Regions from separate parts of the Homo sapiens genome. Here all the other regions are linked to region 3. The links come from fine-mapping of genetic effects on gene expression. A gene starts in region 3. Each other region holds a variant in brackets. All regions are shown on one strand. Distances are from middle to middle.

Region 1 (2,758 bases), 32 kb before region 3:
TGACCTGACTCCAAGATTGGCATTCTCAGATCCCATGCTCCGCCCCTGGATGGCTTGGCTAGGAGTGTCTGAGGGGCGGGGCTGGCAAAGCAGTGCCTCCTATATGAGGGAGAGGGAGAAGACCTGATAGGGTGATGGCCTCTCTGGGACCTGGTCCAGCACTTGGAAGCCTGAGAGGAAGGGGGTCTCTCTTCCCAAACACCCTATGGCAACATGCCACAGGCCCTTCTCCACCCCTGCCTCTGCTGGTCTCAAAACTTGCAGTGCATTTCAAAGGGGATAAACCTGAAGGGCTTCTATTCAGGTGAGAGAAAGGCAGGATCCAAATGAAAGTCAGGTTGCACCCAGAGATGTTCAAAGCTCTTGTCATGGGGCATGGGGACTCTTCCCTCCATGCCCTGTAGGCCCATCCAGTCCCTTCTCCACAAGCTAAACATGCCCATCTGTGTCCCCAAACCAGCAAGAGTTGTTGGTTTTCAACTGGATAAAGTCCAGATCCCTTAGCTTGGCATTCAAGCTACTCTGGGATCCCATTTTTGACTATTTGTCCTACCTCATTCTCTCACTAAGCAAGCTCTTTGCATCATCAAGTTAGGCTGCTCACCATTCCTCTAAACATGTTTGCTGCTTTCCTGCCTCTAAGGCTTTGCCCATGCCTTCCCCCCTAGAGTGCTTTTCATTCCCATGTTCTCCTATTGAAATCTTACCATACTGGACATGCACAGTGGCTCACGCCTGTAATCCCAGCACTTTGGGGGGCTGAGGTGGGCAGATGACTTGAGGTCAGGAGTTTGAGACCAGCCTGGCCAACATGGCGAAACTGTCTCTACTAAAAATACAAAAATTAGCTGTGTTTGGTGGCACGCACCTGTAATCCCAACTACTCAGGAGGCTGAATCAGAAGAATTGCTTGAACCCAGGAGGTGGAGGTTGTAGTGAACTGAGATCGCGCCACTGCACTCCAGCCTGGGCAACAGAGTGAGAGGCTGTCTCAAAAAAACAAAACAAAAAAAAACAACAAAAAAAAAGGAAAGAAATATTACCATTCTTTTAAGCCCAGGTCCACTGGCACCTTCCCCTTTTCCCCTTCCATAGATTTTTTTTTTTTCTCTCTTAAATCCCAGGGCACTTCACTTTGTACAGACCTGCTGGCTCATGTGTGGATTATCTGTGTCTGTGCCCTTCTCCTAGATACCACAAGTGAGGGCAGCAGCAGTGTCCTATTCATCACCATAGCCCCCCGAGGGCCCTGTGCTCAGTAGGTGCTCTAGGAATGTCTATCAGACTAATAAAGGCATGAATGGACTCCTAAAATCAGTGGGAAGCATTTCTGATCCAAGGGAACCTGCATTTTAACAGGGACCACCACTTGCCCTAACGCAGAGAAATTATCCAAAACTAGGAAATAAAGCAAAAGGAGTATTATGTGCCCTTTAAAAGTCTCCTTAGAGTATGTCTGACTTACTATTTAC[T/C]GTTGATTAGTGGCCAGACTTTGTAAAAACTGATGTTAACTGTAGAAAATTGATGTTGCAATTAATTTCTATATACTTCAAAAAAATAACCCTGAAGGTTGTGATTTGGTTGTCCTGCAGGACATTAACCAGTTTTGTATGTTACTTAGCTATCTTAAGTAACCAGCATTCTTACTTGCCATCTTAAGTAGCCAGCATTCTTTTTTCACTGACCTTACTTCAATTTCTAATATCTTCCTTTGAACCAGCTTTGCCATTCTGCTGGGTTCCCTCATTCATGAGTTAAAAAAATCTTTCACTTGTGTTCACTATATGTTTGTGTAAGAGTTATGTCTTTTAAATTTTTGAAAATTATGCTTTGACACAACTTTGGGCACATTAAAATCATCTGTGAAGCACTTAAAAGATATAGAATACCAGCAATTTGGGAGGCCAAAGCAGGCAGATCACTTGAGCCCAGGAGTTCGAGATCAGCGTGGGCAACATGGAAAAACCTGTCTCTACAGAAAATAAAAATAAAAAAATTAGCCAGGCATGGTGGCACACACCTGTGGTCCCAGGTACTCAGGAGGCCAAAGCAGGAGGATTGCTTGAGCCTGGGAGGTTAAGGCCGCAGTGAGCCACGATCATGCCACTGCACTACAGCCTGGGTGACAGAAGAAGACCCTTTCTCAAAAACAAAAACGAAGAAAGATACAGAAACCCAGGTTCTACCTCTGGGATTTTGACCCAGAAACTTCTGGATGGGACTTTGCTGCCTGTATTTTTAGTACTCTCAGAGAATTCTAATTAATAATCAGAGCTGAGAACCTCTCTACTGAAGGGCAACAGCCTTTACTAGGCTTTTTTGTTACCACAAACAAGCACTCGTTAAATGTTTGCCATTATTGCCTGGCACAGTGCATGCACCTCTAATCCTAGTTACCTGGGAGGCTGCAGCGGGATGATTACTTGAGCCAGGAGTTCAAGTCTGTGGTACAATATGATTGTGTTTGAGAATAGCCACTGCACTCTAGCCCGGGCAACATGGTGATACTCCATCTCAAAAAAAAAAAAAAAAAAAAAGCCTTTGTTATTGTTAGCTCTGGTGATGGAACTTCAGACACAGGGATGAAGATTTGGTGTACTGGTACTCTGGGTGTTCCTGAAATCATACCAGCTTCACATTGGGCCTTTTGGATCATGAGAGGCCATGGTATACAATACCAGGTGTATCATTGTATTAGTTTCCTTGGCTGCTGTAACAAATGGCCATATACTTAGTAGCTTGCAACACGGATGTATTA
Region 2 (2,758 bases), 55 kb before region 3:
TGTGGTGAAGCACCCAGCACAGTGTCCAGTACGCAGGGGTCTTACTGGTTACCCCCATCCAACCCCAGCACCCTCCAAGGGGCTGGGCTTCACACGGCTCAGCTCTTCAGACAATAAATGAGTGATTTGGGCCGGGCACAGTAGTTCACACCTGTAATTCCAGCAGTTTGAGGGGCCAAGGCAGGTGGATCACTTGAGGTCGGGAGTTCGAGACCAGGCTGGCCAACATGACGAAACCCCATCTCCACTAAAAATGCAAAAATTAGCCAGGTGTGGTGGTGCATGCCTGCAGTCCCAGCTACTCAGGAGGCTGAAGCAGGAGAACTGCTTGAACCTGGGAGGCAGAGGTTGCATTGAGCTGAGATCCCGCCACTGTGCTCTAGCCTGGGCAACAGGGTGAGACTCTGTCTCAAAAAAAAAGAAAAAGAAAAGAAAGAAAGAAATGAGTGGATGGGATTCTAGGCTGGTTTGGTTCCTTCCTGGCTCTAACTTGAGTGAGAATAGCAGAGTGGACTAACAGATGGTACCAGGGAGAGGACCTGAAACCTAGGCCTGGTTGAGCACCCCTCCCAGCCTGTGTGATCCCAGGGAACCCACCTTCCCTCTCTCTGCCTTGGTGGTGTCATCTGTAAATGAGACCACTCAGTTGTAAAACCCAAGTTCTTTCCAGCTCCACGATTTGAAAATAGCTACTAATAAAATCAATAAACATGTCCAATTTTTGACAATTTTTGTCAGTGAAAAAAAAATTGAATAAACACATGCTGGCTGGTGGCTGGGACTTGTGTGACCATGTGGGGTTGCTAGGGTAGGTTCTGGACCCTCCTCAATCCCTGCTCTTGGTGAATGCTGAAAACAAGGACATAGTTCCTCCAACCCTAGGCCACGCTTCCGTGATCCCGTCTCCATCGCGGAATTCCTAAGCCCTTGACTTCTAAACCGTGCTGTTATGGTGTCTGTGTTTTTCCTCTTTCTCATCCAAGAGCTGCTTCCTGGTGAGTCGGACATGTTGAGCCACATGTGGTAGAGCAGTGAAAGGTTCCAAAACCTGTAGGTGGTCCCTCCCCAGTGGGCTTGTAATCGCTTCCCGGATTCCAAAGCCTCATTATGTGAAATCCAAGCTGGAAGCCCCATCCAGGGTTTGCCTCTCCCATCTCAGCTGTCAGC[G/A]GGTGCTTGAATTGTTTAGAACTGTTTGGAGGGAGGTGGGAGGACTGAGGCTCAAGAAGGTCTGTTTGCATACTGCCCCTCCCATCTTCCCCTTGTTAATGTTGGCCCTGGTGGAGTCTCCTTTAGAGCCGCGGTCTCATCCTCTGGTGTCCCTGCTGTGGGTCTGCCAGCCTCACTTGGGCTCAGAGGCGGAGCATTTGTCCTGGACCTAACCCTCTCACTGGGGTGGGGGCTGTGGGGCAAAAGGCGGGGCTCTCAGGGAACAACTATTTTCCTACTTGTTCGCGTTATCAGAATTAAACTTGAAATGAATCTAGACATCTTGTTGTACCATTCCTTCCTTAATGCCTTCCATAAAGAGGGACTGAACACCTCCTACAACCCAGAACAGGTACTATGGGAAGCTTCAAAGAAGTATCACATACTAACCCTGCCCTTTAGGAATGAATAATGTAGAGACAGGTAGGAGGTAGTCAGCTCTTCATTTATTAATGTAGAGACAGGTAGGAGGTAGTCATCTCTCCATTTATTCTTTTTTTTTTTTTTTTTTTTTTTTGAGACAGAACCTCACTCTGTCACCCAGGCTGGAGTGCAGTGATGCAATCTTGGCTCACTGCAACCTCCACCTTTCGAGTTCAAGCAATTCTTGTGTCTCAGCCTCCCGAGGAGCTGGGACTTCAGGCGTGCACCACTATGCCCAGCTAATTTCTGTATTTTCAGTGGAGATGAGGTTTCATCATGTTGGCCAGGCTGGCTCGAACTTCTGACCTCAAGTGATCAGCCTACTTTGGTCTCCCAAAGTACTGGGATTACAGGCGTGAGCCACCAGGCCCAGCCTCCATTTATTCTTTTATGTATTGGGTCAATAATCTGTCATTGAGCCCTGCTTTGTCTCTTAGCTCTCAGGTATAAATGGATGTTTTTTGAGGGAAGAGGGAGGACTGAGGCTGAAGAGATTCTGATTATATATGTCCACTCCCTTCTTGGGGCTAGTGCAAACAGGGGATATTGAGTTGGGAAAATGTAGCCCTTAACCTGGGGTTGCACCAAGCCTAGCACACAAACAACTAGATATGAGGCAGACTCTTTTAAGTGCCTTTATAAGGCAGAAAAAGTGAACTGGGAGTGTGTAGGAGGCAAAGATCACTCCCAACTGGGGAACCCAAGGCGGCTTCCTGGAGTAGCTGTGCCTGTAAGAATGAGGATAGAATCCCTTCAACTAGAGATGGAAAGGAGAGAATTGCAGGTACTTATAGATAACGGCAATGTGTAAGAAAACCCATGGAAGGGCTGGAAAAAGCAAGATGTGCTCAGGGAACAAGTTCGTTAGAAATTAAGCAGGAGAGATTATCCTCCTCTACTGAATAGCTGTATGGTCTTGGCCAAGTCACTTAAACTCTCTGGGCTTTACTGCTTTGTGTATACAATGGGGAAAAGGCAGACAGCTCCTGTGAAGTCCCTTTTCTTCCTTCCTTCCTTCCTTCTTTCCTTCCTCAATGAACAAGACTAAGTCCCCGCCCTCATGGAATTGGGAGGAAGAAAATAACAAATAGGACAGGCCGGGCACAGCAGCTCATGCCTGTAATCCTAG
Region 3 (2,758 bases):
CAAACCGCTGCAAAAGCCACTGCTGGGAACGCGGCGCAACCCAGAGCCCGCTCTTTAAGCGCGGCTGTTAGCACCCCGGGAGGCAGCGTAGGGATGGGGTTGAGATGGAATGAAGGTAATACTTTGTCTTGAGCCAGGGGCAACTAGGATGCACAAACCCCCTCTGCAAACAGCCAGTGTACACACCCTGCAAGGAAGGCGCGCCACAGGCTGCAAAGGGAGACACAGGTTCCTCCAGCAGCAGTGGGCCATGGGCACCGAGCGGGGACACGGGGACGCTGTAGTGGCTCTGGGGCCTCACCCTGCACTTGCGTCCGTCCACGGTCTCCTCCTCAAAGCCTTCTCCGACCTTGAAGTTGATCTCAGTGGTGCGCACCGTGGTGGATGTCTTGATGTAGAACTGATCCCCGTCCTGGCGGATCTCCACGTGCGGCTTGGACGCAGCCGCTACGGCCACTTTCCTCAGCATGGCGTTCACACCTGCGCAGGGTGCACCACAGGCTTGGGTCACGGGGCCTCGCCGCCAGTCTCGGGACCGGTCGGGCACTGGTCATACCCTAACTTTAGAAAGGGGCCTTAAAATTGATCCACTCGTTTCCCTGCCCTCGCCCTTGTTTTCGAGATGAGAGACTGAGGCACAGAGAGGGTAAGTGACTTTCCTCGAGTTGCACAGTGAATTCGTGGCAGAGCCTGGTCCCAAATTTGAGTCTCCAAATTTAAGTCCCTGATCCTCCTTGCTCTCCAGTAATCTCTCCTCGCTATGATCTAGCACGAGATAAAGTCCGCACCATCGAGGAGGGCGCCAAACATTCAGCAAACGTTCGCTGAACGCGTGGGTTCCGGGATCTCTACCAGCTTCTCCGAGACCCGGTGCGCCTGGGAGACAAGGCGATCTATTGCCCCGGGGACTCCCTCCTGCCTGGGCTCCCCAACTTCCACCCCCTCCAGGACCGGGGCACTTCCGGGACCAGGGCACCTCCGGGCCGCATCTCCCCGTCGGGGCGCGCCCTCTGCACCAGCTTACCCAGTGCCTTGAGCAGCTCGTCGAAATTCTCGCTGCTGCGCATCTTCCAGGTGCCGGCGAAGTTGGGCATGGTGGCGGTGGCGGCGGCGGCAGGTACGGACAGCGGCGGCGCAGCGGGCACACTCTGAGCTCGCAAGGCGGAGACTGGCGCTTTGCGCCCAGCGCTGCGCGCCTTGAGTCACTAGGAGAGCGCCCCCAACCCCGCCGGGCTTCTGGCCCCGCCCCGCCGGCCCTGCCCCCGCTCCCCCGCAGCCCCTACTCGGTATGCGCTCAACTCCCAGCCCAGTTGTGCCTCAGCCTCCAGAGGTGCGGGCACCCGCTCTCCAACTGGGGAGCCTCCACCTCCCTCAGGACACCCACATCCCGCTTTAAAATGGGTGGTGGGAGAGGGTTAGCTGAAACAAGATGGGCTTGGAGGGGATAACTGTTGAAGCTGGGCGGTGTGGACTTGGGTTATGATTCTACTTTTCTCTCTACTTTTGAATATGTTTGAAAATATCCATAACATAAACTTAAAGTGGATAGCGAGCGGGGCCATCAGGGGATGGGACCCACTCTTTTTTCACCTCCGGTCGTACCTACTGGGTGTGCCCAGATGGTGTCCCTTCCCTCCCAGTCCGGGATCCTATTCTGAAACCCTCTCCCCGCATCCCCACGCCCCCCACAGGACCCATGGGGAGTGAGTGGCAGGAAACCGCAACCCCCATCAACACCAGCTTGGGCACTGAGGCGCGAATCCACGAGCTGCGGGTCCTCCGCGTTCCGAGTGCAGGAGGGGGCCAGACCTTTGTCAGGGCTCAGGACAAACTGTGGGTCGAGAGGCATGGACTGAATCAGCTCCAGAATCTGGGCTAGGTGCGGCCTGTTTTGCAAAAGCGTGAGGCTTTGCACTCTTCGGGCAGGCTGTGAGGGCCAAGGGGAGGAAGTCTTCTCCCTTTGCTCCCAAATAACCTAAACATCACGACCTAAAGTCCCCTCGGTGTTTCCACTAAGGGAGTACAAACACTTCACTATTACCCTTGTAGCTCTTCTCTGTACATTTTCCTTCCAGCTTTTTCCCACTATTTTACCATCTGCACACCTCAGCCAAACTGTACAATTCAGGATTCTAGAACGTGCCATGCATTTTATTATCTCTAAGTTTTTGCCCATGCCATGGCTTCTTCCTTGAATGCCCCTTTCCTCATCGGGTTAATCAAATCTTGCCCATTCACGAAAGCCCATCTTTATGCTCTCTCTTTTGTGAAATTCAGTTTCCTAATAAACTGTGATTATTTTTCTCTGAATTGACAGGATTCTTGTCCGGTCCTGCTCTTGTTCAAGTCTTCGCTCTGCTATAAACTGAACTCCTGGAGGGCAGTGATCGTTTATCCACTTGTCCTCCCTTCCTAAGGCTTAGCCAGGTGGGGCTCGATAACTGTGCATTGATTTGAGGAGGATGTGAGTGGTGGCCTGGGGTGAAGATTCCCCCAGGACCTTGGGGAATCTGTGCTGAGTGCCTACTGAACAGGGCCCTGGAAACTTCTGGAGGTGGCTGGGGCTGGGTTGCTGCCAGGAGGCTCCGAGGATCTGTCTAAGAAAGCAGCTGAGGACAGGAGAGGGGAGTGGGGCCATCACCAGCTGGAAAGGGGCATGGGCAGGGCCGGCATTCTGGACGTGCCGTCTGTGCAGTCACACAGGGCCATGCACTTAGAAGGGCCTGATAGTTAGATTGGAAAATGGAAAAGCAGGAAT

Which allele goes with the higher level. Alleles are on the strand shown, and positions count from the first base shown. SD is a standard deviation of normalised expression in the study named. Not every link is listed here.
In carriers of allele G in region 2, the expression in tibial nerve of the gene that starts at base 1,170 in region 3 tends to be higher than with A alone (small effect, 0.36 SD a copy in GTEx).

What was found.
Region 1: its variant is fine-mapped to the expression of CRABP1 in tibial nerve (GTEx, PIP above 0.99).
Region 2: its variant is fine-mapped to the expression of CRABP1 in tibial nerve (GTEx, PIP above 0.99).

Annotation. Positions count from the first base shown.
Region 1 is chr15:78,370,378-78,373,135 of GRCh38, reverse strand. No RefSeq gene overlaps it. Among named protein-coding and RNA genes, the nearest start is that of CRABP1, 31 kb to the right of the region's middle. The variant T/C (reference allele first, on the strand shown) is at 1,473.
Region 2 is chr15:78,393,767-78,396,524 of GRCh38, reverse strand. No RefSeq gene overlaps it. Among named protein-coding and RNA genes, the nearest start is that of IREB2, 43 kb to the left of the region's middle. RefSeq lists an enhancer at 448-948. The variant G/A (reference allele first, on the strand shown) is at 1,168.
Region 3 is chr15:78,338,765-78,341,522 of GRCh38, reverse strand. CRABP1 (cellular retinoic acid binding protein 1) reads right to left here and starts at 1,170. Exons shown (of 4, transcript NM_004378.3): 1 at 1,025-1,170; 2 at 302-480. The coding sequence starts at 1,094. RefSeq lists an enhancer at 992-1,620.